Linked DNA regions of Homo sapiens. The protein of the gene in region 4 purifies or fractionates together with the protein of the main gene of each other region. This does not show direct contact. Each region holds a gene or a part of one and is shown on either strand. Other genes may lie near its edges.

Region 1 (4,868 bases), on a different chromosome or scaffold from region 4:
GAGGCAGGAGAATCACTTGAACCCAGGAGGTGAAGGTTGCAATGAGCCAAGATCGTGCCATTGCACTCTACCCTGGTGACAGAGTGAGACTCTGTCTCCAAAAAAAAAAAAAAAAAAAAAAAAACAGATTTCTATCTTAATTTGGTCAAAGATACACCATGTTATGTCTTAATATATTTAGGTGATTAGGTTGTATGTGTTGGGGCTCAGAAAACAAAACCCAAAAATGAAGGCCTCAGAAGCAAAGTTTCTCTCTGACCTTCTCCTGCCCTCCTGTCTCTCACCCCTCATACTCCCCCAAGGCAAGTCATAGAAACTAGAACCCTTTTCCCCCCAAAGCCAGCCATAAAGCCAAAAAATATGACTCTAACCTTCCTCTCAACCACCTTTCTATACAACAGCTGGCCATAAAGAAATTAAGACCCTCATTCCAAAGAGGTCCTACCCCATACTGGGGAGGAAGAAACGCTACAACAGAGAGGCCAAGAAGAATGTGGACAGGCTTTGCTGGGTTTCCCCACTCAGTCTATTTCCATTAGCTCATCTGTCCCTGCTTCATGGACTCCAAGCATAAAATCAGATCATTTCCCTTGCATCTTTAAGGGGTTTTCATTTCTGAAGGCTCCCATGTCACATAAACCTATGATTCAATAAATTATTATGCTTCTCTCTTGTTAATCTGTCTCTTGTTTAAGGCTGTCAGCCGTGACCCTTATGATATCAGCTCTTTCCTCCCCTACATAAGCAATTGCTCATTTTCTGTTTTTTCAAAAACACAAGATACCTTTTTAAAGCACCTTGGATATTTTAGAGACCTTTTGTAAAAATGCAACTTAATACCAAGGGGACACCTAATTCTTCCTACTTTGTTGTTGTTGTTGTTGTTTTGAGTTGGAGTCGCGCTCTGTCACCAGGCTGGAGTGCAATGACACGATCTGGGCTCACTGCAACCTCCGCCTCCCGGGTTCAAGCAATTCTCCTGCCTCAGCCTCCCAAGTAGCTGGGACTACAGGTGCATGCCACCATTCCCAGCTAATTTTTGTATCTTTAGTAGAGACAGGGTTTCACCATGTTGTCCAGGATGGTCTTGATCTCTTGACCTCGTGATCCGCCCACCTCGGCCTCCCAAAGTGCTGGGATTACAGGCATGAGCCACCATGCCCGGCCCTCTACTTCTTTTAAGCACACAAGTAAGTTTAACAAAGTTTCAAAGGTTCAGGGAAAGGCTGGCCCTGTTTTAGATCACTTCCTCCATTGAGGATTGTTTCTGGTGTCAAGACAAGTTTTTCATTTACTCTTACATGCAGTGAGCAGAACCAAGTGTTTATAGGATAGCACAGTGTAGAGCTGTGCTGTCTCCACTACCTAATAAAAAATATTACACAGCCAGGTACGTAATTTTAAGTTTCTAGTAGCCATATTAAAAAAGTAAAAAGAATCAAATGAAGTTCATGTTAATATATGTTATTTAACCCAATGTAGCCAAAAATGTTATCACTTTTAACGCACAATGTAAGAATGTATTAGTGAGATATTTGACATCTTTTTTGTGTACTAAGCTTTCAGAAATCAGGTGCCTGTACTCAGAGCACATCTCAGTACGGATTTTGCCACATTTCCAGTATTCAATAACCACATGTGACCAGTGGCTCCCACATTAGACCAGGCAGGCCTAGAGCAAATAAAAGCACCGGAAGCACCCAGAGACACCTTCTCAGTGATGGCCATTTAAAAAGTAATGTTAGACACAAAAGAGTACTTACCTGATGATCTTGTTCTATGAAGTTCTAGAACAGTCAAAGCTAAGCTATGATAACAATCAGAACCGGGGTTGAGTGCGGGGCCTGGGGTGGATTGACAGAAAGGAGGTACCAGGGAACTTTGCAGGGTGAAGGAAATGGTCAATGTTCACTTTGGGATAATGGTTACAGGAGTGTATAATTTGTCAAATCCCGTCGATTTGCACACTGAAAATGGGACATTTTGTTGTATATAAACCATACATACAATTCTTTTTTATGTTGCCCCCAAAAAAGCTATTCTGTAGCAGCAGCGTAGTTCGGCACTATGCGCCCTAACCATCTAGTACGGGGAAAACGCGGGGGTCGTTGTTTAAGGGGTGCACTGGGACCGGGGAGAGGACAGAAAGGCCATGTTACCGGCGCTGATCACCAGCCTCGCAGACCCCCGCTCGGGGCTTCACTTCCGCCAACGCCATCTCAGGGCTCTCCTGGCTCCCGAGGGCCGGGAGAAGTGGGGATCCGGGTGCGGGCGCTGGCGCGGGCGGAGGCGGGAAGAAGCGCGTCCCGGGGACGCGCGGGACAGGCTCCAACCGCACTGGGCACGGGCCAGCGTTCCCCAGTCCCCGCGCCACACCCGGCAGCCGAGGTCTGCGAGCGCGGGGCTGGCGGCCGGACCCGACTCAGCGCTGGGCAGGGAGCCGGCGCCATCAGAGAGCGGACAAAGGAGCCCGGCCCCACAAGTGCACCGGGGCTGGGGGTGCAGGGCGGAGAGGCCCTGGGGACGAGGGATGGCCCGGGCGCCGAGGCCCTGGGGGTCTGGGACAGGCCCAGAAGGGAAGTTACCTGCGCGGTGGTGGTAGCACCGGGGAGGGTGGCCGGTGGGCACGGCGGGCTCCACCCCGCGGCTGGCCTGGCGCTCACCTGTCGGGCTGGGGAAGGGGTCGCTGCCGGGGCTGTCCAAAGCCGCCCCCGGGATCTTCCCACCGCCCACACGGGCCTCGGGGTGCGCGGCGCCCTCCTCGCCCACCTTCCCCTCTCCTCCCTGCTGCTGGCCCAGCTCACTCACGCTGGTGAGCTTGGGGTTTGCACCCGGGTTTGTGCAATGGTCCAAAACAAGCGCCTAAAAAGTGATTCCTCCAGCACAGGCAGCTCCCGTCACCCTCCGCTCTGGACGCACTGGGCCCCAGGCCTCGCCCAGCCCGGGGACCGCTCCTCCCTCCCGTGGCTCACTTTGCAAAGGCACTTCGAGTGCGCGGGTGAACTCCACGCTTCCCGGGGAACCCCGGCTTCCTGGCAAGCCGAGACCCTCGCTCGGGTCCTCCCGTGCAGATCTCACCCTTGTAAAGAACTTCACTGGTCACAAACGCTTGTGGATCCCCTACTACGCCCCAGGAACTGCAGGAGCGCTCAGGAGAGAAGGAAAAGGAAAGAGAATGCCTGCCTTTGAGGAGCTAGCTCACAGTCTGGTGGGAGGTCCACCCGTCTGTTGGAACCAGTAAGGTTCCCTAGAACAATACTTCTGCAGCAAAGAGTTGCGGGGGTGCAGTGAGGGGAGGAAGGCAATTAAGGCTTCCAAGAGTGACTTTTTTTTTTTTTTTTTTTTTGAGACGGAGTTTCGTTCGCCCTTTTTGCCCAGGCTGGAGTGCAATGGCGCGATCTGGGCTCACTGCAACCTCCGCCTCCCGGGTTCAAGCGATTGTCCCTGCCTCAGCCCCCGGAGTAGCTGGGATTACAGGCGGATGCCAAAAAGCTCGGCTAATTTTGCATTTTTAACAGAAACGGGGTTACATCACGTTGGCCAGGCTGGTCTCGAACTCCCGACCTCAGCTGATCCTCCTGCCTTGCCTCCCAAAATGCTGGGATTACAGGCTTGAGCCACTGCACCCCGCCCAAATACTCTAAAAAGTCACTCTTCGGGTGACTCACGCCTGTAATCCCAGCACTTTGGGAGGCCAAGGCAGGCGGATCACCTGAGGTCGGGAGTTCGAGACCAGCCTGGCCAACGTGGTGTAACCCTGTCTCTACTAAAAATGCAAAATTAGCCAGGTGTGGTGGCACCTGCCTGTAATCCCACCTACTCCGAAGGCTGAGGCAGAGAGAATCGCTTGAACCTGGGAGGCAGAGGTTGCAGTGAGCCGAGATCAGGCCACTGCACTCCAGCCTGGGTGACAGAGGAGACTTTGTCTCAAAAAAAAAAAAAAAAAAGAGTATTGGAGGATGATTGGTGCTGGGAACGGATACAGGAGGTTTTTCGGGTGAAGGCAAGAAGCCAACCACTGAAGGAAGCTAACATGGACAACAGAAGGGTCTGAAGTGAGATGGAAGGTTTTAGGAAAGTGGTGGAAATTTCGCATAACCAGTGTGAGATGCTAGAGCGACAAGTTAGACAAGAGTCACTGAAGACCTAGTGGAGTTTAGAAACCATCATCGTGTAGTGGTGTCCAGCTATAATCTGCTATAATCTGGCAAGGTATCTACAGAAATATAGCTCTTAGTTATGAAACCCAAGTTTCCTGCTTGCATAGAATAGAAGGACAAGAGGGTGAGGAGGTGGAGGGCACAGAAAGACTGCGATTGCAGTGATGGGCCAGAGCTCTAGTCCTAGAGGACAGGAACTGTTAATAAAACCAGCGGGGAGCTGATGGACTGGGAGACAGATGAGAGAAGGGCTCCAAGGCCAGGGCCTCTGAGGAGAGGACTGGCAAACTGGCAGCAGAGAGTGTGGTGCTGGAGTTCAGGCCTTCAAATGGATATTCCAGGAAATGAGACAGTTTGGGGTGTGGCAGCTACAATGGAATAGAAAAGTGAGATGGGCATCACTGGCCTTGGGTTTAGTGCCCACAAGGCTGGTATGTTGGACATCGAGGGTCCCAAAAGGATGGCAGGAGGTGGAGGAGTCAATCGAGGTCAAGGAACTTTAGAGAATTGGGGTTGCGGGGTGGGTAGTGAGCCTGAAACTAATAGATGACTGTGACAAGGAAAGGGAGAAGGTTGCAGAACAAATGTCAGTGCCTTTCAAGACACAATGGAGGCCTGGCGCCATGGCACACCCCTGTAATCCCAGCACTTTGAGAGGCTGAGGCAGGCAGATAGTTTGAGTCCAGGAGTTGGTGACTTACCTGGACA
Region 2 (4,088 bases), on a different chromosome or scaffold from region 4:
TGGCATCCTGCTCGGATGACATGACATTGAAGGTAGAGTCGGCATGGCAAGGGGTGGGCTGTTTAATCCTAGACAACCCCGGGCACTTGATGCCAGTCTCACGGTCACTCTTACATGAGGATTATTTATTACTGACCACCCTCCCTTCCTCTGTCATCCGGTGAGCTACGATTTCTCAGTCATAGTCCCACTGAGAATCGCAGCCTCCCTGCAGCCTTTCTCACCACTGTGCACCCTCCACCCTGCCCTGGGCCCCGTGTGCACCCCCGGGAGGAATGATTCCACATCGTTCCCGGATGCAGGAATGGCTTTTGCTCATGTTGTGTCTGGTGTGTTCTGTAGATCTGGAGCATGAAACAGGAGGTGTGCATCCATGATCTTCAGGCTCACAATAAAGAGATCTACACCATCAAGTGGAGCCCCACTGGGCCCGCCACCAGCAACCCAAACTCCAACATCATGTTGGCAAGGTAAGGGCAGGCAACACAGCTGGCACAGCTCGGTGTTACACAAAGACAACAGGAAATTCTGCTAAAGCGCGTCCATGCACGTGTGTTGAAGCCCTTCAGAGGAAGCAAAGCGGTAGCTCACTTTGAAGGGGCCAGGATAGAATTACCGAGTAACACCTGCCTTTGAGGTAAGGATGGTTTTGAGTCAGGCACAGTGGCTTACGCCTATAATCTCAGCACCCTGGGAGGCCAAGGCAGGACGATGGCTTGAGCCCAAGAGTTCAACATCAGCCTGGGCAACATGGTGAAACCCCATCTCTACAAAAACTTAGCCAGGCGTGGTGACGTGTGCCTGTAGTCCCAGCTACTCAGGAGGCTGAGGCAGGAGGATGGCTTGAGCCCAGGAGATTGAGGCTGCAGTGCGCGGTGATCACACCACTGCACTCCAGCCTGGGTGACAGAGCAAGACCATGTCTCAAAAAAAAAAAAAAAAAAAACAGAAGAAGAAAAAAAACCACCCAACATGACTGCAGAGCCACAGTTGAGGGACAGCAAGCCAGGCAGCACCAACTCCTGTTGACGGTGCTCGAATTAAGGTCATCTCTTAGAGAGGACAGGATGGAATTCCTGCATCCACTGAGAGACGGAACCAAAAAAACAAAGAACACATAGGCCGTAATTCTCATATTTCAAGTAATTGTCATAAAATCCACTTAAAGTACTGTGATATAGTGTGATATAGTACTACACACTCGAGTTGTTTTGTGATGACTCAGAAGGTGCTTTTGCGTCGCGTGGTACTATTAGGAGCATAAATTATCCTTTTAGTCAGCAAGTATAAAAGGGGCATCCCGGTACCTAATGGGTCCCTGTTGAAAGAAAGCAAGCCAGACAATAGCTTTGTGATAGATATTACTGTTCTAAGTTTGAAAATAACTAAAATTTGCAGCTTTCAATAATGTGATTACGTATGTGGATGTGATTGTATTTTAATTCTTGTTTGATTAAAATTTATTTTCTATTTAGAGACAGGGTCTCCCTATGTTACCCAGGCTGGTCTTGAACTCCTGGCTTCAAGTGATCCTCCCACCTTGGCCTCCCAAAGTACTAGGATTACAGGCATGATCTACTGTACCTGGCCTAAAAAGTTTTTTAAATGTTTATTCACTTAATTTGCTATTTTTCCAAATATGGCTGTCTGTATTAATTTAGTTGGTAATAATAGATGTCATGTTTTAAATTGTAGGGGCATTTTAGGAAACTTGATAAATATTCTACAAAAATATTTACCATTTACGTCTATAGGAAACATAGAAACAGGGCTGGGCGCAGTGGCTTACACCTGTAATCCCAACAGTTTGGTAGGGTGAGGCAGGAGGATCTCTTGAGCCCAGAGGTTCAAGACCAGCCTGGGCAACACAGTGAAACCCCGTCTCTACAAAAAATAAAAAAATAAAAATTAGCCGGGTGTGGACCTATGGTTGCAGCTTCTCTGCTGAGGCTGAGGCGGGAGGATCACTTGAGCCCAGGAGTTCGAGGCTGCAGTGAGTCATGATCACGCCACTGCACTCCAGCCTGGGCAACACAGTAAGACCCCATCTCAAAAAAAAAAAAAAAGGTGCAGAAACAAATGTAGATATCAAATTGTTTCCCTAATAAGACCATTAAAGCTTTTTTTCTGTTTAATGACTATGGCTTTGTTTTTAATACTTGTAAGTAGTTACAGTTTAGAAGACAAAAAGCTTTTTAGTTATTATCTTTTGAAACGTAAAAGCTGGGAAAAACAACTCCTGGAGATCTGATACACATTATGGAGAACTGTTTGAAACCACCGTGTGTATGTGATTTTGCTTTCTCTCCCACCTTGCTAGTGCTTCGTTTGATTCTACGGTGCGACTGTGGGACATAGAACGAGGCGTCTGCACCCACACGCTCACGAAGCATCAGGAGCCTGTCTATAGCGTAGCTTTCAGCCCTGATGGGAAGTACTTGGCCAGTGGATCCTTCGACAAGTGCGTCCATATCTGGAATACTCAGGTAAGCTCCCGACCCCTACACCAAATCCTTTTAGTAAGGGATGCCCAAATAGCCACGACTCCAGTGCCCTTGGCTCAGAGCAGTGCCCCGGAGGGAGTTGAGCAAGCTCAGGCTCCCCGGGCAGACCCAGTGGATGCTGTCCACGTGCACCCCACGTGGGCTGTCAGCTCTTCCCCCACCAGACACCTCCGGCAGCTCCCCTCCCTGAGGAAGGGCGTCGTGTCCACCGTAATCATGGCTCTTGGCCATTTGATTCCAAACCCTCACCTTGGCACACGTTCTTCCTTGAAGGAGCCGCTGTCTTCTGTTCACTTTTCTGAGTCCATGGCACGAAACCTTCCACCTGCCTCTTCCTCTTCTTAGCAGTTATCACCGAAGTGCTGCTCTCTAGATACTGAGGTTAGAAGGTGGGAGTGGGGGACCAGCTAACGGGGTCAAGGCCACACCAGCTCCTGCAGCTCCCTTACGGAGCAGACCAGGGAGTGGGAAGGAATGTGCTCTTGCTGTTGTCATGCCACTTCAATTTTTCTTTTCTGTTTTGTTTTGTTGTTGTTGTTTTTTGTTTTTGTTTTTGTTTTTGAGACGGAGTCTCACTCTGTCACCCAGGCTGGAGTGCAGTGGCGCGATCTTGGCTCACTGCAACCTCTGCCTCCCAGATTCAAGCAAGTCTCCTGCCTCAGCCTCCTGAATAGCTGGAATTACAGGCACCCGCCATCATGCCCAGCTTATTTTTGTATTTTTAGTAGAGACAGGGTTTCACATGTTGGCCAGGATGGTCTTGAACTCCTGACCTCAGGTGATCCGCCCACTTTTGCCTCCCAAAGTGCTGGGATTACAGGTGTGAGCCACCGTGCCTAGCCTCAATTTTTCAAATCAAAGTAGGTTCTGTTTGAGGACATAAGGTATGTCAATATTGGGTTGTCCTTTTAGCAGGGATTGAAAGGACATAGGATTTAAATAAAGGTGGCTGCTGTGGGTATCTTGGGCCACACCTGAGGATAGAAGAATTCCAGCTGTAAAGTGTAGAAATGGATGGGAAGTAGCACTGCATAGCATAAAGGATTGTATAGGGCCATCAGCACGTGATTCTAGTCTAAGGGAAGAGAGAGGTGATAATATGCTAGGAGCTGTTGAAAATAAGGAAGGGGTCCCTTTCGCCTCAGGAGGGGAGGAATCACACAGCCTTCCCCCTGCCCCCTTTCATCTGCACTGCCTTCTTGGTTCCTTTTGGCTTGGTTGACATTCAGGTGGATTTATACCCTCAAGTTCATTCCCCCTGTGGACTCAATGGTGATGAGCCCTGTTCACTGGCAAGGGGTCCACTGAGATCACAGGCTTCCCAGGGACCTCATGTGAACCACATCCTCTCAGGGAAGGAAGGGAAATGGTGGACCCTGCGTAGAGCCAACCCGACGCCAAGCCCAGCCCCACAGCCCTAGATAGCTCTCCGGGAAGCACGCATCTCAGCACTAGTGTCCAAGAGTCTCCGTTCCTGAAATCCTCGCTAGAAATAGTAATGGGTGGATTTGTAAAAAGAACACATCAATTATCAAAACAATGACATGATCAGTTAGGTACAGCCTGTTGTCAGGAACTCACTGA
Region 3 (4,088 bases), on a different chromosome or scaffold from region 4:
TTGGTTTCAGTTTTCCTCTTGTTGTTGTCCTTCTTTCCATCATTCTTAGTTACAGTTATTCCTTTGCTATAGTCCCTTCTCACCTCTTTGGGAGGAAAACTTCTTCCTTGGTCTCTGTTCACTTCTCGTGTCTTAATGTTTTCTTTGAAGGTAACCACTGGCTTCTCTCCTGTGTCACAGTTGTTGCTTAAATTTCGGCTTGTAGATAGCACTGATTTTAGCCCTGGGCTCCCATCTGCAGCCAGCGACTCTATCACAGATGTTTCTTGCAGAATGAGGTTCTCTTTGGCTTCACTGGGGTCTTCCAGTATTAATTCTGGGATTTCTGTGATAAACAACAATTTCCCTACCTCATTTTCACACTGAATCAGCCTAAAAAAGCAAAAATAAATCCATATATAAAAAACATTAACTTAAAAAATAACAACTGAATTGTGTGTGGATCCAAGTCAATATATTCCTAGCACTAATAACCATGAAAACAGCAGGATATAACAATGTGGATTCAGGTAACACAAAAAGTAGTTATGTAGAAACTGAGGTTCTCATTATCACACTTAACATCGTCACAACCTATCCCTCTGGCTCTTTCAACGTTTGCTAGAATTTACATTTTCTGAGCATGCTTCAAGTGCAAGACACTGGTCTAGGGCCCTTGATATGTCCTATAAGGTAGCTATATATAATTCCTATTCTATAGATGTGAAAATTGAAGCTTGGAGGTGGTAAGTTCATTCAAACATGGAAGCATTTAACTACCTACTGTATGACAGAAACCTGAATACAAAAATGAGGAAGTAGTTAGTGACTTTGGAAAGGTTATAATCTACTGGGGAGATCCCAAGGACACCCACTTGAGAAGCTGCGGAACTCGAAACGGAACTCAAACCAATGGAATTACAAAACCTGCGTTCTTTTCCCTACACTAACGACCACATCTGCTTTGTACTTAACTGGCTACTAGCACGATCTTGGTCTGTCCTGCCTGAAACTGACTACCATGCCCAGGCCAATACAAATTACCATGACTGTGAAAGTACAGTTCAGTTAGATTTACAGAGATATTTATAAATTAGAGCAGAAACTCACGATAAACAAGAAAGACCTCTGTAATACACAATAGGGAGAACAGAGATTCTAAATAAAGAGTATACTTACTCACTAGGGTTATAATTAGATGTTGTGCTACCAACATGTCGATTTAAGAGTTCATGATTGACAATATTTATACCAAAGCCTAAAATACGTAACATATGAGATGTGTGTGTGTGCGCGCGCGTGTGCGCGCATGTGTTTATCTAAAAAGGTGGTTAAAAAGGGGTAGACCAGAAGTTCCAGACTTACCTTGGCTGATTATCAGCAATCCATTTGCCTATAGAGATCAAGCGTTGCTGTCGTATTCGTCGTTGCTGGCCTTCTTTGTCCCCTGTAATACCCTGGTGACCTTTGGAAAAATCCAAGTTCCTAAAATTGACACAAGCAAGTTATGAGAATATTAAATTGCTAAAGATATTTTCCAGGCAACCAAGTTCACCTGATTAACTGTAATGGCTTCAGATTACTTCCCACATAGGTTAGCTACTTGATGTAATCAACTGCATTTATTAGAATTTATACTACCAGAGATTTTTACAAACTATGAAACAAAGCAGAAAAGAAAATATACAAATTCATTACATTAATGTAATATTTTTACTCACATTTCACTTTCTAGTCAGGGAGCTCAAATAAACCACAACTTTTTATTAGGAAAGATTCTTTTATCATTTTAAGAATAAAGTTTTATAAACATTTATCTTGCATGCCAAGTAATTTGCTTGAAATGACCATGGCAATGCTAAGAGTCTCTGAGGTGCCTATTTTAATAAATAATATTAATCTATCCACTTTGTGGTGGACCATTCTAAATCAGAAAAATGTATAAATATCGTAAAGCATATAGAATAACTCATTGATATCAGAAGGGTAAACCAACCTGAAAAAATAAAGATTTTTCAGATTTCTCCTTATTAAACTTTTTTTTTTTTTAAGAAGATTTAAGAATTGCCAGGCAGAAGGCTAGATGCTGAGGACACAAAGATAAATAAGAGTCCCTACCTTTGGGAATAAATAATTATGATTCAATCTGATAAGCATAATAAGAACTATGTAAAGAATTAAGTGAATATAGTAAAAGGAGGATGAGTTCCTTCTGAGAAGCTCTGAAAGGTTTCATAGAGTGATACCTGAGCTGGACCTTGACAGGTATGGCTAAGTGCTTACCAGGCTGGTGATGGAAGGGCAGTAGAGGAGAAGGAAATGTTCTAGGCACAACATGAACAAAGGTGTGGAGGAATAAAAATAGTGAGCTATTCAAGTATAGCACATAGTGTATAGAGTTTATAAATACTGGGGGAAATGGAAGAAAATAAGGCTGAACAACTAGGAGCTGGATAGTGCTGGAACTTGAGCATCAAGCTAAAAGAGACAGTGGAGCAACTGGGAATGGGTAAATAAAAATATTAGTCATGCAACATCACTATTTCCATACTTAAAAACTATAGGCAGTGTAGAAACAGACTATAGGAGGAGAAGAACTATACGTAGGAAGGTTTTTATACTTCAGGTAAACTGGTGAGAAAAGCCTGAACTATGTATAGGGAAATAAACGGAAGGACTTGAACCTAAGAAGCATTTCAGACACATAATTATAAAGGCTTGGTGAGAAAGACAAATAGAAACAAGGGTTTTTCAGATTTCTAGCTTGGTCATATAGATGGGTAATGCCACAGGCACAGACAGAAAATAGAGAAAGAAGATTGCTTTTTGGCTGACCAAATCGGAAAATATAAGCTCAGTTTTTGGTCACGTTAAAGTTTAAAATGCGTAAGGGAGGTCAGATTGTTAGAATATGCATCCAAACTTCAAGAGAAGTCAAAGCTGAAAATTTGGGACATACCATTCAAGAGACATAGGGATGGATTTGATTAACAGGGTGAATGTACAAAGTGAGAAGGAAAGGGCAAGAAAAGAATCCTGGAAAACAACAACATTCAGAGGCATGTAGTTTAAAAGAAATAGTGAAAAAGACTGAGTGCTAAGGGTGGGAAAAATTGCATCACAGAGCTAAGGAAAAAGGTTTCATGAAGGAAGGAAATCGACGGACTCAATGCTGAAGAAAATTCAATAGGATAAAGACTATAGTCACTGGATTTTGGTATCTAGAAGGCACTGATAGTTTAAACCACAGTAGGCTGAAAATGATCAGGAGTTGAAGTGGAGTCAGTCAGGTTGGCCCACGCTACTCTTTTTTTTTTGAGACGGAGTCTCACTCTGTCACCCAGGCTGGAGTGCAGTGGCGTGATCTCTCAGCTCACTGCAGCCTCTGCCTCCTGGGTTCAAGCGATTCTCCTGCCTCAGCTTCCTGGGTAGCTGGGACTATAGGCACCCGCCACCATGCCCGGCTAATTTTTTTTTTTGTATTTTTAGTAGAGACGGGGTTTCACCGGGTTAGCCAGGATGGTCTCGATCTCCTGACCTCATGATTCACCTGCCTCCGCCTCCCAAAGTGCATACTACTCTTTTTAAGAAGTTTGATGATGAAAAGATAAGGCAACGTAGGAAAATAGAGGGATGTAAATTCATTTTACCTTTTTAAAAGAATGGGGCACACTTAAATGTTACTAGGCTAAAGATAATTAGTTGTTTAAAAAAGAAAGGAAAGAAAGACAAGACACTGGAAATACAATGCAGAGAGGATAACAGATGGAGCAAGGTTCTTAGGGAGGTGAGAAGGGATGGGATCAAGGGCACAGATGGAAAGGTTACATTTTAATTTTTATTACACAGGAATTGAAGGCGTGACATACACAAATCCAATTCACAACAACTTTCAGTATTAGTTGACGTTACAAAAATAACACACAGCTGGGACAGATCAAAGGTTCCTCTACATCCAAGCCCAATTCTCTGCTAATTTTAATACTGCAATCACTGGCAATGATAAAGGTACTTCAGCTATCACCTACCTGAAAGAAGGTCTCAATGCCAAAAATCCTTGTAATTCAAACTCCTCTGGAAGTGGTGTCGCTAAAGGGTCAAAATCAAAA
Region 4 (4,088 bases):
GGAAAATCACGAGATCAGGCATTTTAGACCATCCTGGCCAATGTGGTGAAAGCCCATCTCTACTAAAAATACAAAAATTAGCCAGGCGTGGTGTTGCGCTCCTGTAGCCCCAGCTACTCGGGAGGCTGAGGCAGAAGAATCACTTGAAACCAGGAGACAGAGGTTGCAGTGAGCCAAGATCATGCCACTGCACTCTAGCCTGGGTGACAGAGCAAGACTCCGTCTCAAAAAAAAAAAAAAAAAAAAAAAAGAATGTAAAAGGTAAAGTGTTAAAACTTTAAACAAAAACACAGAAGAAGTTCTAAGTGACCCTGTGTTAGGCAGAGTCCTTTAATACTACAACAAAAGCATGATCCAAAAAAGGAAAAAATTAATTGGACTTCATCAAAATTAAGAACTGCTCTTCAGAAGATACTGTTAAGTGAATGAAAAGATAAGCCAAAGAATAGAAGAAAACATCTGCAAATCTTGTACCTGGTGAAGAACTTATATCCAGAATACGTTAAAAATTGTCAAAACTTAATAAGTAAACAATCCAATTTAAAAATGGGCAAAAGATCTGAAGAGACATTTTACTAAAGAAGATAAACAGGCCAGGCGTGGTGGCTCACGCTTGTAATCCAAGCACTTCAGGAGGCCAAGGTGGGTAGATCACCTGAGGTCAGGAGTTCGAGACCAGCCTAGCCAACATGGTGAAACGCTATGTCTACTAAAAATACAAAAAAATTAGCCAGGCGTGCTGGCGCGCACCTGTAATCCCATCTACTCAGGAGGCTGAGGCAGGAGAATCACTTGAACCCTGCAGGTGGAGGTTGCAGTGAGCCGAGGTCATGCCACTGCACTCCAGCCTGGGCAACAGAGCGAGACTCTGTCTCAAAAAAAAAAAAAAAAAAAAAAAGATACACAAGTGGCAAACAAGCACCTGAAAAGGTGCTCAACATCATTCATTACTCATTAGAGAAATGCAAATTAAAACCGTAAGAAGCTACTACAGTTAATATCAAAAACAGCCTACTATATGATGATAGAAGTGACAGCAGTGGTCACCTTTAGAAGGGAAGGAGTGGGAGGGGCCACAAGGAAGCTCCTATGGTACTAGAAATGTCTTATTTTTTGGTCAGGTTGGTGAATAACACAAGGGGTTCATTTTGTACCACTTATGCTCACCTTTCTACATAAACTACACTTCAATTAAGAATTTCAGGGCCGGGCGTGGTGGCTCACACCTGTAATCCCAGCACTTTGGGAGGCCAAGACGGGCAGATCACGAGGTCAGGAGATCGAGACCATCCCAGCTAACACAGTGAAACCCCGTCTCTACTGAAAATACAAAAAATTAGCCAGGCGTGGTGGTGGGTGCCTGTAATCCCAGCTACTCAGGAGGCTGAGGCAGGAAAATGGCGTGAATCCGGGAGGCGGAGCTTGCAGTGAGCCGAGATCGCCCCACTGCACTCCAGCCTGGGGGACAGAGTGAGACTCCGTCTCAAAAAAAAAAAAAAGAAGTTCAGGCCAGGCAGAGTGGCTCACACCTATAATACCAGCACTCCGGGAGGCTGAGGCAGGCAGATGGATTACCTGAGGTCAGGAGTTTGAGAACAGCTGGCCAACATAGCAGAACCCCATCTCTACTACAAATACAAAAATTAACCAGGCATGGTGTACGCCTGTAATCCTAGCTACTCAGGAGGCTGAGGCAGGAAAATCGCTTGAACCCAGGAAGCAGAGGCTGCAGTGAGCTGAGATCGCACCACTGCACTCTAGCCTGGGCTACAGAGTGAAACTCCATCTCAAAAAAAAAAGAAAGAAAAAGAAAAGAAAATAATCTACAAGCTATTAATCTCAAAGTATAAATCATTAGCCTCTACCAGTAAACTATTAAAACCCAAAAGAACCTATACAGGTAAAGAAAGAATAAATGAAACTGATATAATTGTACAAAAGAATTTTTTTTTTTTTTTGAGACGGAGTCTCACTCTGTCGCCCAGGCTGATCTCCGCTCACTGCAAACTCCACCTCCCGGGTTCACACCATTCTCCTGCCTCAGCCTCCCGAGTACCTGGGACTATATGGCGCCCACCACCACTCCCGGCTAACTTTTTGTATTTTTAGTAGAGACGGGGTTTCACCGTGTTAGCCAAGGCATGGTCTCGATCTCCTGACCTTGTGATCCACCTGCCTTGGCCTCCCAAAGCGCTGGGATTACAGGCATGAGCCACAGCGCCCAGCCACAAAGGAATCTTATATGGCAATAAAAATGAACTACATAGCGAGGCATAATGGCGTGCGCCTGTAATCCCAGCTACTCATGAGGCTGAGGCACGAGAACCACTTGAACCCAGGTGGTGAAGGTTGCAGTGAGCCAAGATCGTGAGACTGCACTCCAGCCTGGGTGTCAGAGCCAAGACTCTGTCTCAAAAAAAAAAAAAAAAAAAAAAAAGCCTGAAAGACACCAGGAATAGCACACCCTAAAGAGTTTCATTTATACCTTCAAAAACAGGCAAATTAATCTGATGTTAAAACTCATCTTTTGTTCATGATTGGTAGATAGTGGTTACTTTTAAAAAGGAAGGAGGGCCAGCCTGGGCAACATAGTGAAACCTTGTCTCTACAAAAAAAATCAAAATATGAGGCGACAGGATCGCTTGAGCCTGAGAGGTTGAGGCTACAATGTGCCATGATCTCACCAGTGCACTCCTACCTGGGTGACAAAGCCTGAAAAAAAAAAAAAGGAAGAAAGGAGTAATAATTGGTAGAGAGTTCAAGGGGAATTTCTAGAGTTCTATAATATTTTACATCTTGACCAGGTGATTGTTATGTGGATGTATTCACTTTCTGATAATTCACTTAGCTGTATACTTCTGATTTGTGCACTTTAATGTACACACACTATATCTCAATGTTTCAAGAAGGGTTATTTCAAGTTCTTCTAATCATATTCCACTACTAAAAACATTTTAACAATTCCCCATAGCCTAAATGCAAAATCGAAGGTCTTAAGCATGGCAAAGCATAATATGGTTCCTATCTTTAACTTAATCCTCATGTCTGTCCATCCCCACGTATACTTTGTATTTCAATTTATCAAATTATTTACAGGCCCAGAACATAAAATACTGCTTCAGCCTTCAGGCCTTTAGATAATATTTCCATTAGTTGAAATCTTCTCCCTCTTTACACGCCACTAGGTCACCAAACTGTCCCTGAAATTTCCACCCAACTTGGATATTTACTCCTCCAAGATGCTTCCCTACCCCTCCACTCCAAAATTAATCACCCTCTTTTCTATATTCAGTGTATTACTGCATGCATCAAGTGATGGCACAACTGTCCATATGTCAGTCCATACTCTATTGTAATGTAAACAATTCAAGCACAAAGTCTAAATTTTCCTGTTGCCAATGCCAAACATGAGGCTTGGCATGTGGTGGTTACTTAACAAATTTCACTCTTATGTTTATTTCTGTACTAATTAAGACTGTAAAATTATCTAGGATGAAGCCTAAGTCTTATAATTCCTCCACAGCACACAGCATAGCAAGAGCACACTGCAGGCATACAACAGTGATGGTTTAGCTAGCAGTGGAATGTTTACCGAAACACAGTTCCATGGACAAAATGCACTTTTCAAACCATATGCTTACCTATAAGATAAGATACGTATGTCCTACTGGAATTGCAAAAGGTCATCTTTATATATATATATATATATGCATTTCTAGAGTTTTGAGCTACAAGAAACCAATAGCAATCACCTAGTCACAACCCTTAGGAAAGAACAGAAGCCTAGAAAAATTAAGTGGCTTACTCAAGGTTAAGACTATAGCCAAAAGAGTCAAGACTAGGACTCAGATTGCCTAGGTTCTCTCACAATCCATGTAGCCTCCCTTTTGTACTATCTGACTTCTCCAAGTATGACTGCTTTACTATTTTATATTTAGATGGTTAATATCCTCAATTGCAGGGCCTTTAAAAATTTTCCTTTTAAAATTTGTCTTTAACAAACAAATACTAAAAGTACCAACAAGTTCAACCAGGAAAACACCATTTCCAGTTCCAATATCAAGCACTGAAGCATCCAGTGGAATCTT
Region 5 (4,863 bases), on a different chromosome or scaffold from region 4:
TAAGCCCAGCATTTTGGGAGGCTGAGGCAGGAGAATCACTTGAGGCCAGGAGTTTGAGACCAGCCTGGGCAACATAGTGAAATCCCTCCCCACACCAAAACATTTTTTTAAAATAAAATCAGCTGGGATGTTGGTACGCACCTGTAGTCCCAGCTACTCAGGATGCTGAGGTGAGAGGATCGCTTGAGCGTGGGAGTTTGAGACTGCAGTGAGCTATGATCACACCACTACACTCAAGCCCGGGTGACAGAGCAACACTATATTACATACACACACACGCACACAAACTGTAACTCCCTTCTCTGCTCTTAGTCCTTTTTTTTTTGTTTTGTTTGAGACTTGCTCTGTCGTCCCCAGCCTGGAGTGCAGTGGCACGATCTCGGCTCACTGCAAGCTCCGCCTCCCAGGTTCATGCCATTCTCCTGCCTCAGCCTCCCAAGTAGCTGGGACTACAGGTGCCCGCCACCAAGCCCGACTAATTATTGTATTTTTAGTAGAGACGGTGTTTCACCGTGTTAGCCAACATGGTCTCGATCTCCTGACCTCGTGATCCGCCTGCCTCGGCCTCCCAAAGTGCTGGGATTACAGGCGTGAGCCACCGCGCCCGGCCCTATTTTAGTACTTCTTAGTCCTTCTTAGTACTTAATTACATTTAACATACCATCGCATTTCTAACTTCAACTTATTATCCAACTCTCCCTGCTAGAATATTAACTCTATAAGGATAGGAGTTTTTTTCTGGTTTGTACTTTGTTGTATCCCCAGGGTAGTCCAGAACAGTCCTAATGCAAAGTAGATGCTCAATAAATACATGTCAAATGTATAAAATGAGGGCTTAAAAATCAATTTGATTTCTGTGTAACCTCCAGAACAAACTGGAGGGTAGCAAGGGCGGAGTGTAAAGGAGCCAAATGCAACAATCCATGCAAGAGGTAATAGGGCTTAGACCAGAGTGATGGCAGGAGGATGGCAGTTTTGGGGATGTATTCTAGAGGTAAAGCTAACGGGTTAGACAGATGAGGTAATCTGACAAATTAGATGTGGGAAGAAGGGAGATAATGGCTGTTTCTGATGTAAGCAACGGATGATGCTATTTACTCAGACAGAAAAGACTGGAGCAAATACATTGCGCACTGGAGAAGAAAAGGAGGTTGTGTAAACAAGCATTCTGTTCTTCCTTCCTCTGTAGTGACTGCCACCCACACTGGCACTGCTCAACTGGAAATCTTAACATAGTGACAAATCAATTTAACCATGACCAAAGTACTCACAGTACTTACATACATGTTAGAGAGCCACTCAAAAAAGCAGAACTTTGTTACTAAGTTTAAAAAAAGAGGCCGGGCATGATGGCAGGCGCCTATAATCCCAGCTACTTGGGAGGCTGAGGCGGGAGGATTGATTGAACCCCGGAGGCGGAGGTTACAGTGAGCTGAGATCATGCCATTGCACTCCAGCCTGGGGAACAGAGTGAGACTCTTTCTCAAATAATAATAATAATAAAAAGATTGATGAACTAAAAATAAAACAAATTCCCAAAAACCAGACTCTACCTAGAGGATCTCTTGGGGTGGTGGTTATGGTTAAAGGTCAACATTATTTCTAAAACTAAACTTAAACTCATGCTCCGTTCCTCTAGCAGTGAAACATAGAGGTTCAAATCATGGATTTGGGGAACCAGGCGGATCTGAGTTGAAGCACAGCTCCACCACTTAGCCGTGTCACCTCAGTCGAGTTACTTGAACCTCTCTGGGTTGGTTCCTCGGCTGTACAACAAGGAATAGTATTAACTGCCTCACTTCAAAGACTTGTGAGGGTTAAAATAATGTGCAAAGTGAAAGGCTAGGCATAATTCCTGACATAGAACTCGATAAGAGGTAGTGGCTATGGCAGTGACTGTGGTCCTGCACACTTCATTCCGAAGCAGCAGCTCCAATTCATTTAAGCTAACAGTTTACACTCTAGACGTAAAGCCTGGTAGGGTTCAAGCGTCCCTAACTCGCCACAAAAACGGACATTTCGGCTTTTTCCCCTAAGATCCAGGAAGGCAGCTCAGGTGTAAGGGGATGAAAAGTACGGAACCCCGAGGACACATCAACTCTACAAAAAGTACCAAGACACACGGTTTGGACGAAATGCCCCTCGCCTTGGCAAACTTTCCACACCTCACCCGGCATGAGAGAAACAGCCTATTCCTAAGGAACGGAGCGCGCACTCCCGACGAGACGCCCGTGCGCTCCCGAGTCCGTTATTGTGTCAACGCTCCCGGGTCTGACAGAAGCCTCCAGGCTCGGCATCCCCGAGGGAGTTGGCCGGAGGCTTCGCGCTTAGGACCCTGGTCTGGAGGCCCCGGGCGTTTCTGGAAACGGGAATTCCGGGGGAGGGGACTGGGGGATGGAGGGAGTCCTGGACGAGGGGTGGGATTACCCGGCTGCCGCTGTCGCCTGGATGGTCTCCGCGGCCGTCCCGGGCATAGTCGGCGCGGGACTCCCCCCGGCTGCTGCCTCTGAAGCCGGCCGGGCCCGGCGGGAAGAGTCGTCGGCCCCGCGGTGGCGACGGGGAGCCGCGACGGGCCCGAGGCGGGGACGGGGAGACGCGACGACCCCGTGGCGGGGACGGCGAGGCCCGGCGGCCGCGGTGCCCTGAGGGCGAGCGGGGTCGGCGAGCCGGGGTCCGCGACGAGGAGCCGGAGGGCGGAGGCGGCGGTGAGCTGCGGCGAGCCGGGCCTGAGGAGGAGCCAGAGCTGCGGCCGCTGCGCGGGCCGCCCCCGCCGTCGTCTTTAGGCCGGTGGGAAGAGACGGAGGAGCGAGCGCTGCTGCGGTACATGGTTCTTGCAGCGGCGGCCACGGCGACAGCTCTGACCCGGGGGCGCCCTAGACGCAGGCTCGGAGCGCGCCGCCGCAGCTGCAGCCGCCGCCACCTCGGCCGCTGCGCGCCGCCTCAGCCGCGGGAGCAGCCCCCTCCCCTCGGCCCCGCGTCGCCCCGGGGGCCCGGCCGAGCGCGCCCCCGCGGCTGGCGGTTGGAGGGCGCGAGCACGCGTCCGACACACCCCCCCCCGCCTCCGGGGTTCCCCGCTCCTCCACTCAGGGAGCGGCCGCAGGAACCAAGAAAAGTGGGGAGGAGCACAGACGCCGGCGCGAGGCTGGGCGAGGGGAGGGGAAGCGAAGCGCGCGCCCTGAGCTCTGCACGCCCCGCCTCCGAATCCTCAAGATGGCGGCCGCAGAGCCGCCCACTTCCCCCTCCCGCGGCCGCCACGTGACCCCTGTGGCCTCCGCGCGGGGTGGGCGGAGCGGAAGGAAGGGCTTCTCTGGAGAGGGATCTGGTTTTCCGGGGATGCTCCAGGCCTCTGGACTTAGGGGTTTGGAGACCGTGCGGAGGTGTCTTCGCTCTTTCGTGCCGCCCCTCAAGCCTCTTAATTTAGGGATGGACACGAAATGGTTGAAAACCATTCGTGATAATATAAACGGGCCTGTAAACGTTAGCTGTGTGGGAGGTTACGGACCCCGGCAGGAGCGCCCACCGAAATCCTGTCCCCAGCTGAAGCAACACGACCCGCATCAGTTTACTTTCCAGTTTGCCTAATTTCTAGAGGTTGAAATTGAGGATAGGAAAGTACGAGGTGGAGGTGGTGGGCCAGAATCAAACCCAAAATAGACGTTGTCAGGCCTCTGAGCCCAAGCTAAGCCATCATATCCCCTATGACCTGCACGTATACATCCAGATGGCCTGAGGCAACTGAAGAGCCACAAAAGAAGTGAAAATAGCCTTAACTGATGACATTCCACCATTGTGATTTGTTCCTGCCCCACCCTAACTGACAGGATATATTCTCCCCCTTGCCCTTAAGTAGGTGCTTTGTAATATTCTCCCCCGCCCTTAAGAATGTACTTTGTACACCTATCCCAAACCTATAAGAACTAATGATAATTCCACCACCCTCTGCTGACTCCTTTTTCGGACTCAACCCGCCTGCACCCAGGTAAGATAAACAGCCTTGTTGCTCACACGAAGCCTGTTTGGTGGACTCTCTTCACACGTTTTCGAGCTGTTTTCTGACTAAAGTACTTGTGGTCATGGTGGAGGTCCTTCATTACCAGGGGCCCACATCATGACCAACTGGAGGCGTGGCAAGTTTTTGTAAGAGATCCAGGCATGCCCCCTCCCCTGGCCTAAGTCCAGAATTTTCCTAGATGCCAATCTCAGGGCCCTGCATCCTAAATACAAAAGTGGGCCAGGCGCAAAGGGTCACGCCTATAATCCCACCATTTTGGGAGGCCGGGGCAGGAGGATTGCTTGAGCCTGAGAGTTCGAGACCAGCCTGGGCAACGTAGAAGGACCTCCATTTCTAAAAAAAAAAAAAAAAAATTTGCCGAGTGTGGTGGCACGTTCCTGTACCCCAGCTACTCGGGAGGTTGAGGCTGCGGTGAGCTGTGATCATGCCACTGCACTCCAGCCTGGGTGACAGAGTGAGACCCTCTCTCAAAAAATACATCCATATATATATATATCCATTTCCATACGTTCTTATAATGGCATATACTCAGTAAAAATGTATAAAATTTTTACTAGTTGACTACTTTTACCCAGCTTCACATTTTATATAATTTATATAAAATAAGAAACCAATAACATTTTAATGAAAAAAATAATAAAAATATGCCAGAGGTGTATGCCCTGTCTTTATTAGAGTATATATGGATTTTGGTTACCCATACTTTTGGTGGGACTTAATAAATGTGAAAAAAATGTAAATCAGTGTGTATAGATACTTGGAGTCAATAAATTTTAAATCATGTTTGTTATATTCTGTATCAACTTTTACTCCTCAACCCATTTCTAATACTGAATATTTTTATCAAAGGA
Region 6 (4,088 bases), on a different chromosome or scaffold from region 4:
TGCTGTCATTTAGTTTTCTTCAGCAGAGATCAGGTAGCCACATAGCTACACTAGACGGCATTGGATCTATCTGCCATCTTGTCAAGGCAGCAGAGTTGTGTTAAGAAAACATTTTTGGAGTCAGATGTGTTTCAAATTCCAGCTGTTATTCCCTGCATCCGTTTCTCTCATTTTAAGATAGGAGCTAATATTGTTTACCTAACAGTGTAGATGGTGTAAAAATTAAGAGTTTAAGTGCATTGGACGTATTATTATATACATAATAAATTCTCTGCAGCTACTACTTTTTTCCCTTTCCTGGTGGAGCATTTGAACATCACCTTGAGAATTAGTTGTATTTTGTTTGAACACAGGGTTAAGTGAAAAGCTAATTTGGGGAGGTGATTTGGAATGTCAGGTAGTCCAGGTTGCAGTGTAGAAAGAACACACTGAAAGGATGGTCAGTGTAATGTTAGAGGACTGTGAAAGTTGGGGAAAGAAGTTTAGTTTGTAGGTACTTGTTTTTTTGAGCAGGGAATTGTCTTGGCTGGAGGTGAACGTCAGAAAGGTTAATGTAGGCAAGTGTAGAATGGAAATGAAGGTGTGATCATTTAGGAGGTTATTTGTTTAGGTGAGAGAGTTAATGAATTAGGTTTTGTATTAACGAATGAAAATGGGAGCAGATAAATTTTTAACAAATTAAGAATCATATTTTAAAATCAGCACCAGGTACCTAGAACTCTTTGGCAAATAGAAACTTTCAAAAGATATAATCAGGTCCGGGCGTGGTGGGTCACACCTATAATCCCAGCACTTTGGGAGGCTGAGGTGGTGGATCACTTGAGGTCAGGAGTTCAAGACTAGCCTGGCAAACATGGTGAAACCCCATCTCTACTATTATACCAAAAATTAGCCGGGCGTGCTGGCTGACGCCTGTAATCCCAGCTACTCGGGAGGCTGAGGTGGGAGAATTGCTTGAGCCCAGGAGGTGGAGGTTGCGGTGAGCCAAGATTGTGCCATTGCACTCCAGCCTGGACGACAGATCGAGACACCATCTCAAAAAAGAAAAAAAGAAAAAATCAGTTATTTAAATTTAAAAGAGTAAGTTTCCCCAGCACTGTTTCTGGCATGATATAATTAAATGATTAAAATTATTTGATTTTTTTTTTCTTCCAATAGAAAGAAATGCAGGAGTTGAAACTAAATAGCAGTAAGTCAGCATCCCGTCATCGTTGGCCCACAGAGAATTATGGACCAGACTCGGTGCCTGATGGATATCAGGGGTCACAGACATTTCATGGGGCTCCACTAACAGGTGAGCTGGCAAGTGGATAATCGCATATTTTAGTAAAACTACTTTACTTCCCTCTTTTAAGTAGATAACGTGTGAAATCACCTTGTTTATATATGTTTGTTAATATACATGTCAACGTCTGTTTATATGTGACTTCAAAAGCTGTATTAGGTGTTACGGAGATTTTTATAATCCCAAGCAGAAAAAACGAGCCGTATGTGATCACGTGTATATAAAGGCTTAAAGAACACTTAATCCACACCTCAGATGAGCTGAGATGAGATTATTCCTTAAATTGCAAAATGTTATTGAATAGAGTTATGCACTAAGAAATGCTTAATTAAGAACCTACACCTCTGGGGAATTATTTTGATGATAATGATGAGAGGCAGGACGTTATATAGGAAATCTTACTTAATTTGAAATATTATGGTTATATAAAGAAAGAAAAGGAGTTTGGACCTGAATCATACTGGGTTTTTAAGTTCTGCTCTATCACTTACTATAATAGCTGTGTAAGTTAACCTGTCTGAAATGTGGAGATAATACTTGCCTTACATAATTACTATGAGCATTTGTGTATGTGCAGGTGGGCGTGGGTGTGTATCAGACATTTATTAGAGTATACAGTAAACAGTTAATGAACTAAGGTTACTAATAGTGTTTACTGTGGGTTGGCTGTGTGCAAAAGTGCTGTGTGAATGTAATTTGATTTAATTACAGTAACTTAGAATGGCCGGCACCATTATTAATCCCTTTTTTATAAATAAGGAAATGGATAAAGAAAGGTTAGGTAACTTACTCATTATTATACAGCTAGTTATTGATAGAGCCGAGATTCACACTCCAGTGGTGTAACTCCAAAGCACTTGCCAGTATAATACATTGCTCCCAGGCAGCCAGAAATAACAAAATTGTTCCTTTTACGTACGACAGACTTCTGAAATGGTAGTAGTAGTGCCCTTTTTTTTTTTCTCTTTTTAGCCCAGGAAAGATTTAGAAAAAAATCTAGTTTAGATGAGCACATTTGTGTGATGGTTCCTATAGTTAAGGCAACCCCACTAGCCTTTTGTGATAGTATCTTCTCAACACAAGCAAAATAACAGAAAATCTTTGTGAAGTCAAGCTTATTAAATGTCGTAAGTCATAGATAAGTATATGAAATGTCTAACGTTCAAACCTTGTTTTCTTAAAACCTTACACATCATATAGGTCCTTGTAAGAGGATAAACAAACCGGCTAGCCTTTCCTGGGGCTTTTTTAGTGATGTGTGCAGTCAGTTATTTGGTGCCTTGTGGGTCATGATTTCCATTTCTTCTGTGTACAGGCATAAAAGGTCTTCTGTTCTTATACAAGCATGTAAATCCAACATTCTCATTGTCTCATTTTATTCTTGCAATGACCCTGTGAAATGTGTAGAAGCAGCACATCGTCATTTTACAATTGAGAAACATGGAGACTCCAAATGGATTATTTACAGGTTCACAAAACAGCTTTGTGGCACTGAAAGGGCGAGAGCCAAGATCTCCTGATTTCTGTTCCTGTGTTCATAGATTCTTTTTCCTTAATAAAAGTAAACATATATCAAGATGGTCCTTGTTTTTTTAAAATAAGATGATTAAAATTAAAGATTAATGAGCTCATAGGAGATACTCAGAAGTACTGAACAGGGTGAAGAAAACTAAAAGCTAACCACCTTATTAACATTTCTTATATTTGAGAGCATTTCCTTCTGGTTCTTTCTCTATACATATAGTATTTTTTATGAGATTGTTACCATGTTACTATGTTGTGTGTAGATGAGCTAGCCTGTTTTTAAAATGTTACTTTAGTTCTGAGCATTTTTAAACTTAAATGTTTTTTGAATATTAATGAGTTCATGGTATCCCATCACATGGAAGTACTGTAAATTCTGTTCCTTTATTTATGTTGTTTCTGGTTTATGCCATTACAAATTCTAGGACACTGTCCTAGTTTTGTAGGGTATTCAAAATATTCAGTTTATGCTCTTACCGCTAGTATCTGATAGTGCCATTTTCGCACTTTTGCTAATGCTGACTTACTAGTTTATAAAATCCTTTGCCAATTTGTAGGAACAAAAGTGATATCAATTTTTAAGTTTTTTTAATACTAGTCATGCTCAACAATTCATGCAAATGGCAGTTGGTAGTTTTGCCATCTTCAACGTACCTTCCAGTTGTTTGGTTTCTTGGTAAAACTCACACAAAACAGATGGAGAAGAGTTTTTGTATATCAACATGAATGTTAATGTGATTTTTTTAAAGCCAACGAACACATTTGTGTTCCTTGTGAGATCCTGTGCGTGAATTTGTCAGGTAATTTTTTTGACCTGAACATTCTCATAATAGCTTCAATTTGCACAATGCAACCTCGTCATTTTGCAGATTTTCAAGGCTCACTTCAAAAACATGTTCCTTGAGGCCTATTAACATTTCTTTCCTAAATTGTCTATTCATATGGTGCTTTAAAAAATTAGATTACTTTTAGTAGATTTATTAGAGCCGCACAGTTTAGAGTCAGTAGTCAATTAAAGTCCCTACTTAAACTTCAGACTAAGATTTTTTTTTATTTAATATTTTATTTTTTCTTTTTGCTTTCATGCAGACAGACATCTTGCAAGACTTTAAGATTCTTGGGCCATTTCTGTCAGGTTGTTCTGTGTTCTGTGCCTGCTTCCTCCCCATAGTAATTTCAAAATAGCTATCCTCACCTCTGTAAGGTTTCCGAAATCAAACTTGGGCTTCTGGCTAGCCTTTTCTAGGTCTTGATTTTTCAGTGCTTTCCAGAGGCAATT
Region 7 (4,743 bases), on a different chromosome or scaffold from region 4:
GTGTGCCAAAGACTCTTCTAGGCACTGATGATACAATGTGGAATAAAAGTCCTGGCCGGGCTTGGTGGCTCACGGCTGTAATCCCAGCACTTTGGGAGGCCGAGGCAGGTGGATCACCTGAGATCAGGAGTTTGAGACCAGCCTGGCCATCACGGTGAAGCCCCGTCTCTACTAAAAATACAAAAATTAGCCCAGCATGGTGGCGGGCGCCTGTAATCTCAGCGACTGGGGAGGCTGAAGCAGGAGAATCGCTTTGATCCTGGGAGGTTGAGGTTGCAGTGAGCCGAGATCACATCACTGCACTCCAGTCTGGGCAACAGATCGAGACTCTGTCTAAAACAAAACAAAACAAAATGAAGTCCCTACCCTCATAGAGCTTACAGTTATTGTGGTTAGCATAGAAATAAATCATAAATCAATCAGAGACCAACTAATTAAAGGGATTATTTTTTAAAATTCTCATTAATCACAGTAACAAGTACCCCAAGCTTACATATAGCCCTTGAAGTTTCCACATCCACGTATTTTCTGGGCAACTCTTCCCAAGTAAAAAATATTTTCAGCGTTTTTATGTTTCACGTAGGTCAATAGGGTAATATCCAATCATAAAGATCTGCCTTCTTGGCAATGGAGAAATTTTCCCATCATATATATGTACAAATACATACATACATACATACATACATATTAATGACAGAGTCTTGCTCTGTTGCCTAGGCTGGAGTGCAGTGGCATAATCATAAGCTCACTGCAACCTTGAATTCCTGGGCTCAGGCAATCCTTCCTACCCCCTCAGCCTCCGGAGCCGCTAGGACTACAAAAGCTTACCACAACGCCTGGCTAATTTTTCTTTTTCTTTCAAGATGGTGTCTCACCATGTTGTCCAGGCTGACCTGGAACTCCTGGGCTCAGGTGCTCCTCCCGTCTCGGCCTCCCAAAGTGCTGGGATTATAGGCACTTTCCCATAATATTTATAATAATTAAAGGAACAAACAGAGAGATAGACAATCGCCTAAGAGCAGACAGACAATCATGAATTTTTAGCAAGGGATTTGTGTTCTTATAGATAAAATACAGCCTGACTCTTGGAACGGGCATGGCAACATCAGTGTATATTTTATAAGAACTATTATATCGTCTATTAATGATACTTGATTGTTAATAAAATTTTTTTAGCCTGGGCTTCAGGAAACTGTGAATGAAATACACACACGCACAAACTGTATGCAAAATTTCACACACATGCCATCTACAATATGCATGGCAACACCAGAAAGTTCCAGGCCTTAAGGGAGGGTCTTACTTCCTAGAATCTGTTGTAACATCACTTCACAAGATTTGTTGTGAGTGCTTGAGTCACAGTTGGCGCTCAAGAAAGATGCGTTCTCCTTTTAAACACAAAAATGTCCATTGATACAGCAGATTCCGTTCATAGGCATCCTTAATCGCAGAAACAGGAGGGCGGCCCTTTTCCTCAAGGCGCTCTCAGTCCAGGGATGTGCCCGCTCCGCAGCCACACAAGCTGGCGTGGGATAGGGTCAAAGAGCGGTGGATGCGCACGGGCCGCCCACGCCCTCGCTGCCCTCCCGGAGCGTGGGCGAGTGATTCCGATTGTGCAGCAGAAACCCAGGGTCTCACGGGAACGAGGAAACCCGCCCACGCCCAGCCTCCAAGCGACGCTCTCCATGACAACCGGCACTTGGTAACGGCCTCGCCCTGCCCCGCTACGCCGCGCCTAGCGTGCCGCCCCGCCCCGCCCCGCTACGCCACGACCAGCGTGCTGCGTCACGGCGGTGCGCCGGAAGTGGCTGCGGATTTCGCCGGAAATCCCGGAAGTGACAGCTTTGGGGGTTTGCTGCTGGCTCTGACTCCCGTCCTGCGATGGGTTGCGACGGGGGAACAATCCCCAAGAGGCATGAACTGGTGAAGGGGCCGAAGAAGGTTGAGAAGGTCAGTGATGTGGGCCGGCTCTTGGCGACCGGGGGTGGTGGGAATTTGACGACCCCAGAAAACGAGAGGAAGTAAGAAGGGGGAGCCAGCGGAGTTCCAGACCTGGCTGCGGTCTTTTATTCCATTCAGAGGACTCAAAATTAACAACAGTATTAAGAGTGGACATTCAATGGGTGCTGACTATTGCCATTCACTGGACAGTAATCTTAACAGGGGGTATCTCATGTAATTATCACAATAGCCCTATAGCTACATACTGTTGTCCTCATTTTCAGACATGGAAGTTGAGGCTCAAAAGGAGAAATTTGCAAAGCTAGTAAATGGCAGAGCCAGGATTTGAACCCTACCTGCGACTAGTAGCAATAATACAAATACCTAGTGTATACTGAGTTTTGTATACACTAACTTCATTTGCTCAGAGAAGCCTTCCCAAACTGTTCCCTTACCACATCCTTTTATAAACTGTCTTAGCCTGCACACGGCTGTACGTGGTTGATTTGTATCAAGTCTTCCCCGCTAGACGGTAAGTTCCTGATAGCAGAGGCTGTACCCTTTTTTTCTCTGCAACTAGCATGGTTCCTGGCACACTAAATATTTCGAATAAACAAATGAGTGAATAATCCCTGATCTCACAAGTAATCGAGGAAATTATAATAATTTCTTTGCTACTGACGGGGACATTGAGTCCAGGGATATTAAGGTGACTAAGATCACACAGCTGGTAGGTAGTGAAGCCAGGATTCCCATCCACTTATTTGGGATTTCAAAGTTAGCACAAGTAATTACTTTTTAATGATAAAATATTTGTAAAGCACCTAGTAGAGACTTCTTTACAAAAATATTTGTAAAGCACACGTGGAGACTTCATGTATTCTGATTCAGGAGCTGGAGAGCTTGTTTAAAAGGTAAACCCCTTAAGTCACTATTGTATTTGAAGCATTCCAGTGGCTTCCCATCACATTAAGAATAAAATCTCGTCAGACCCTTGAGCAGACCTTGCCTATGTTTCTGACCTCATCTTCTGCCCCTCTCCACCTCTTTCATACTGTTCTAGCTAAACAGGCCTCTTGTTCTTCAACCTGGAGTGTGAGTTCATCAATCTGAAATACTCTTCACTGAGATTGTCACATGATGAGTTTCTTTACTTCATTCAGTTTTTTACTCAAATGTCATCTGTCCACTGTAACTGAAATGTGCCTCACTTCCAATATTCTCTCTTCTCTTCTTAACAGTGCCTACCACTGTGTTGTTTATTGTCTCTTTCCCACGTAGACAGGAACCTTGTGTGTCTTACCTCTGTAACCCCTACCATGTGTCAGCCACATAATAGACACCTAATAAGTATGTGTGAATATGGGAATGAATGAATACCCAAGAGGATGAAGTGTACCCTCTGATCATACGTACATGTAAACAGGCGAATGCTGGATAATTAGCATTCATGAGTGGTTTTTTGGCTTTCACCAAAAAAGTGTTTAGCTCAGTTTTGTTTTCTTGTGCCCAGGGCTGAAAAGGAGTAGCTTAATGAAAGGCTTGACAAGAAACAGGTGTCGGAAGAGGGTAGAAAAGAAGGAAGAGCGATTCAAAAAAGCCAGAATGCCTAGGCAGGATGGATTTTTATTATAACTATTCACACAACAAATGCTTAATAAGTGGTTACCATATATACATTGTTGTAGGCCCCAGGGATATAGCAGTGAACAAGGCAGAGTCTAGCCCTGGTGGAGCTTACATTTCGGATCAATATTGTGAAATCTGCCCTGGTTCCTAACGCAGAGCACCTAAATTCCTTGTAATTTCCTGGGTGACGGGATCATCTTTTGTTCTAATAAGGCAATTATTGGTGGGCTCCTGGATGGGGCCTGGTCACCAGAAACACCAAGCCAAGATTAGAAGCCTGGAACTTTCAGCCCCACCTCACCCCCATCCTTCAGGGAGGAGAAGAGGAATTGGACATGGAGTTAATAATCCATCATGCCTACGTGGTGGGGTCTCCATAAAGATCCCTGAAGTTGAGGGTTTGGAGATTTTCTGGGTTGCCGACAACATCCACATGCCAGGAGAGTTACCCCAACTCCATGAGGACAGCCCTGCACTTGGGACCCTTCCAGATTACTTCTTTATCTGGCTATTTATTTGTATCCTTTAAAATGTATTTGTAATAAATCAGCAATGGTAACTAAACTCTTTCCCCATATCTGTGAGACACTAGCAAATCATCAAACTGGGCGGGGGGATCGTGGTAGCCTTTGATTTATAGACAGTCAGAAGTGCAGGTGACAACTTGAACTTGTGATTGGCATCTAAAGTCGGGGTAGGGACAGTATTATGGGACTGAGCCCTTAACCTTTGGGATCTGAGGCCATATCCAAATAGGTGGTATCAGAATTGAGTTTAATTGTAAGACACCTGGCTGCTATCAGAGAATTGGTTGGTGTGGGGAAAATCCCATACATTTTGTCCGAAGTGTTCTGGAAGTATTGAGTGTTGTGAGTGAAAGTATAGAAAAAACACTTGTCTGGCCAGGCGCGGTGGCTCACGCCTGTAATCCCAGCACTTTGGGAGGCTGAAGCAGGCGGATCATGAGGTCAGGAGATCGAGACCATCCTGGCTAACACAGTGAAACCCTGTCTCCACTAAAAATACAAAAAAGTTGCCGGGCATGGTGGCAGGTGCCTGTAGTCCCAGCTACTCGGGAGGCTGAGGCAGGAGAATGGCGTGAACCCAGGAGGCAGAGCTTGCAGTGAGCCAAGATAGCGCCACTGCACTCCAGCCTGGGCGACAGAGCAAGAC

The links.
Region 1: the proteins of EEF1AKMT2 (region 4) and CTPS2 purify together in Homo sapiens (affinity purification with mass spectrometry; one large-scale study listed by BioGRID and IntAct). This does not show direct contact.
Region 2: the proteins of EEF1AKMT2 (region 4) and TBL1X purify together in Homo sapiens (affinity purification with mass spectrometry; one large-scale study listed by BioGRID and IntAct). This does not show direct contact.
Region 3: the proteins of EEF1AKMT2 (region 4) and SMG7 purify together in Homo sapiens (affinity purification with mass spectrometry; one large-scale study listed by BioGRID and IntAct). This does not show direct contact.
Region 5: the proteins of EEF1AKMT2 (region 4) and ZNF318 purify together in Homo sapiens (affinity purification with mass spectrometry; one large-scale study listed by BioGRID and IntAct). This does not show direct contact.
Region 6: the proteins of EEF1AKMT2 (region 4) and RGPD8 purify together in Homo sapiens (affinity purification with mass spectrometry; one large-scale study listed by BioGRID and IntAct). This does not show direct contact.
Region 7: the proteins of EEF1AKMT2 (region 4) and RTF2 fractionate together in Homo sapiens (co-fractionation; one large-scale study listed by BioGRID). This does not show direct contact.

The regions. Positions count from the first base shown.
Region 1 is NC_000023.11:16,709,750-16,714,617, forward strand, and holds the start of CTPS2 (CTP synthase 2), read right to left. Parts: upstream 2,921-4,868; 5' UTR 2,586-2,920; intron 2,469-2,585; exon of another isoform or gene 1,764-2,468; intron 92-1,763; exon of another isoform or gene 62-91; coding exon of another isoform or gene 1-61. UniProt on the Homo sapiens protein: Catalyzes the ATP-dependent amination of UTP to CTP with either L-glutamine or ammonia as the source of nitrogen. Constitutes the rate-limiting enzyme in the synthesis of cytosine nucleotides.
Region 2 is NC_000023.11:9,709,291-9,713,378, forward strand, and holds part of TBL1X (F-box-like/WD repeat-containing protein TBL1X), read left to right. Parts: coding exon 1-32; intron 33-342; coding exon 343-470; intron 471-2,320; coding exon 2,321-2,486; intron 2,487-4,088. UniProt on the Homo sapiens protein: F-box-like protein involved in the recruitment of the ubiquitin/19S proteasome complex to nuclear receptor-regulated transcription units. Plays an essential role in transcription activation mediated by nuclear receptors.
Region 3 is NC_000001.11:183,538,360-183,542,447, reverse strand, and holds part of SMG7 (nonsense-mediated mRNA decay factor SMG7), read right to left. Parts: intron 4,069-4,088; coding exon 4,008-4,068; intron 1,465-4,007; coding exon 1,345-1,464; intron 373-1,344; coding exon 1-372. UniProt on the Homo sapiens protein: Plays a role in nonsense-mediated mRNA decay. Recruits UPF1 to cytoplasmic mRNA decay bodies.
Region 4 is NC_000010.11:124,785,021-124,789,108, forward strand, and holds part of EEF1AKMT2 (EEF1A lysine methyltransferase 2), read right to left. Parts: coding exon 4,023-4,088; coding exon of another isoform or gene 4,019-4,022; intron 1-4,018.
Region 5 is NC_000006.12:43,366,540-43,371,402, forward strand, and holds the start of ZNF318 (zinc finger protein 318), read right to left. Parts: upstream 2,884-4,863; 5' UTR 2,849-2,883; coding exon of another isoform or gene 2,827-2,848; coding exon 2,428-2,826; intron 1-2,427. Other genes in the region: atherin-like, read left to right, coding at 2,825-2,848, 2,884-3,582.
Region 6 is NC_000002.12:112,391,824-112,395,911, reverse strand, and holds part of RGPD8 (RANBP2-like and GRIP domain-containing protein 8), read left to right. Parts: intron 1-1,158; coding exon 1,159-1,294; intron 1,295-2,692; coding exon of another isoform or gene 2,693-2,805; intron 2,806-4,088.
Region 7 is NC_000020.11:56,466,817-56,471,559, forward strand, and holds the start of RTF2 (replication termination factor 2), read left to right. Parts: upstream 1-1,810; 5' UTR 1,811-1,881; coding exon 1,882-1,950; intron 1,951-3,809; exon of another isoform or gene 3,810-4,125; intron 4,126-4,743. UniProt on the Homo sapiens protein: Replication termination factor which is a component of the elongating replisome. Required for ATR pathway signaling upon DNA damage and has a positive activity during DNA replication.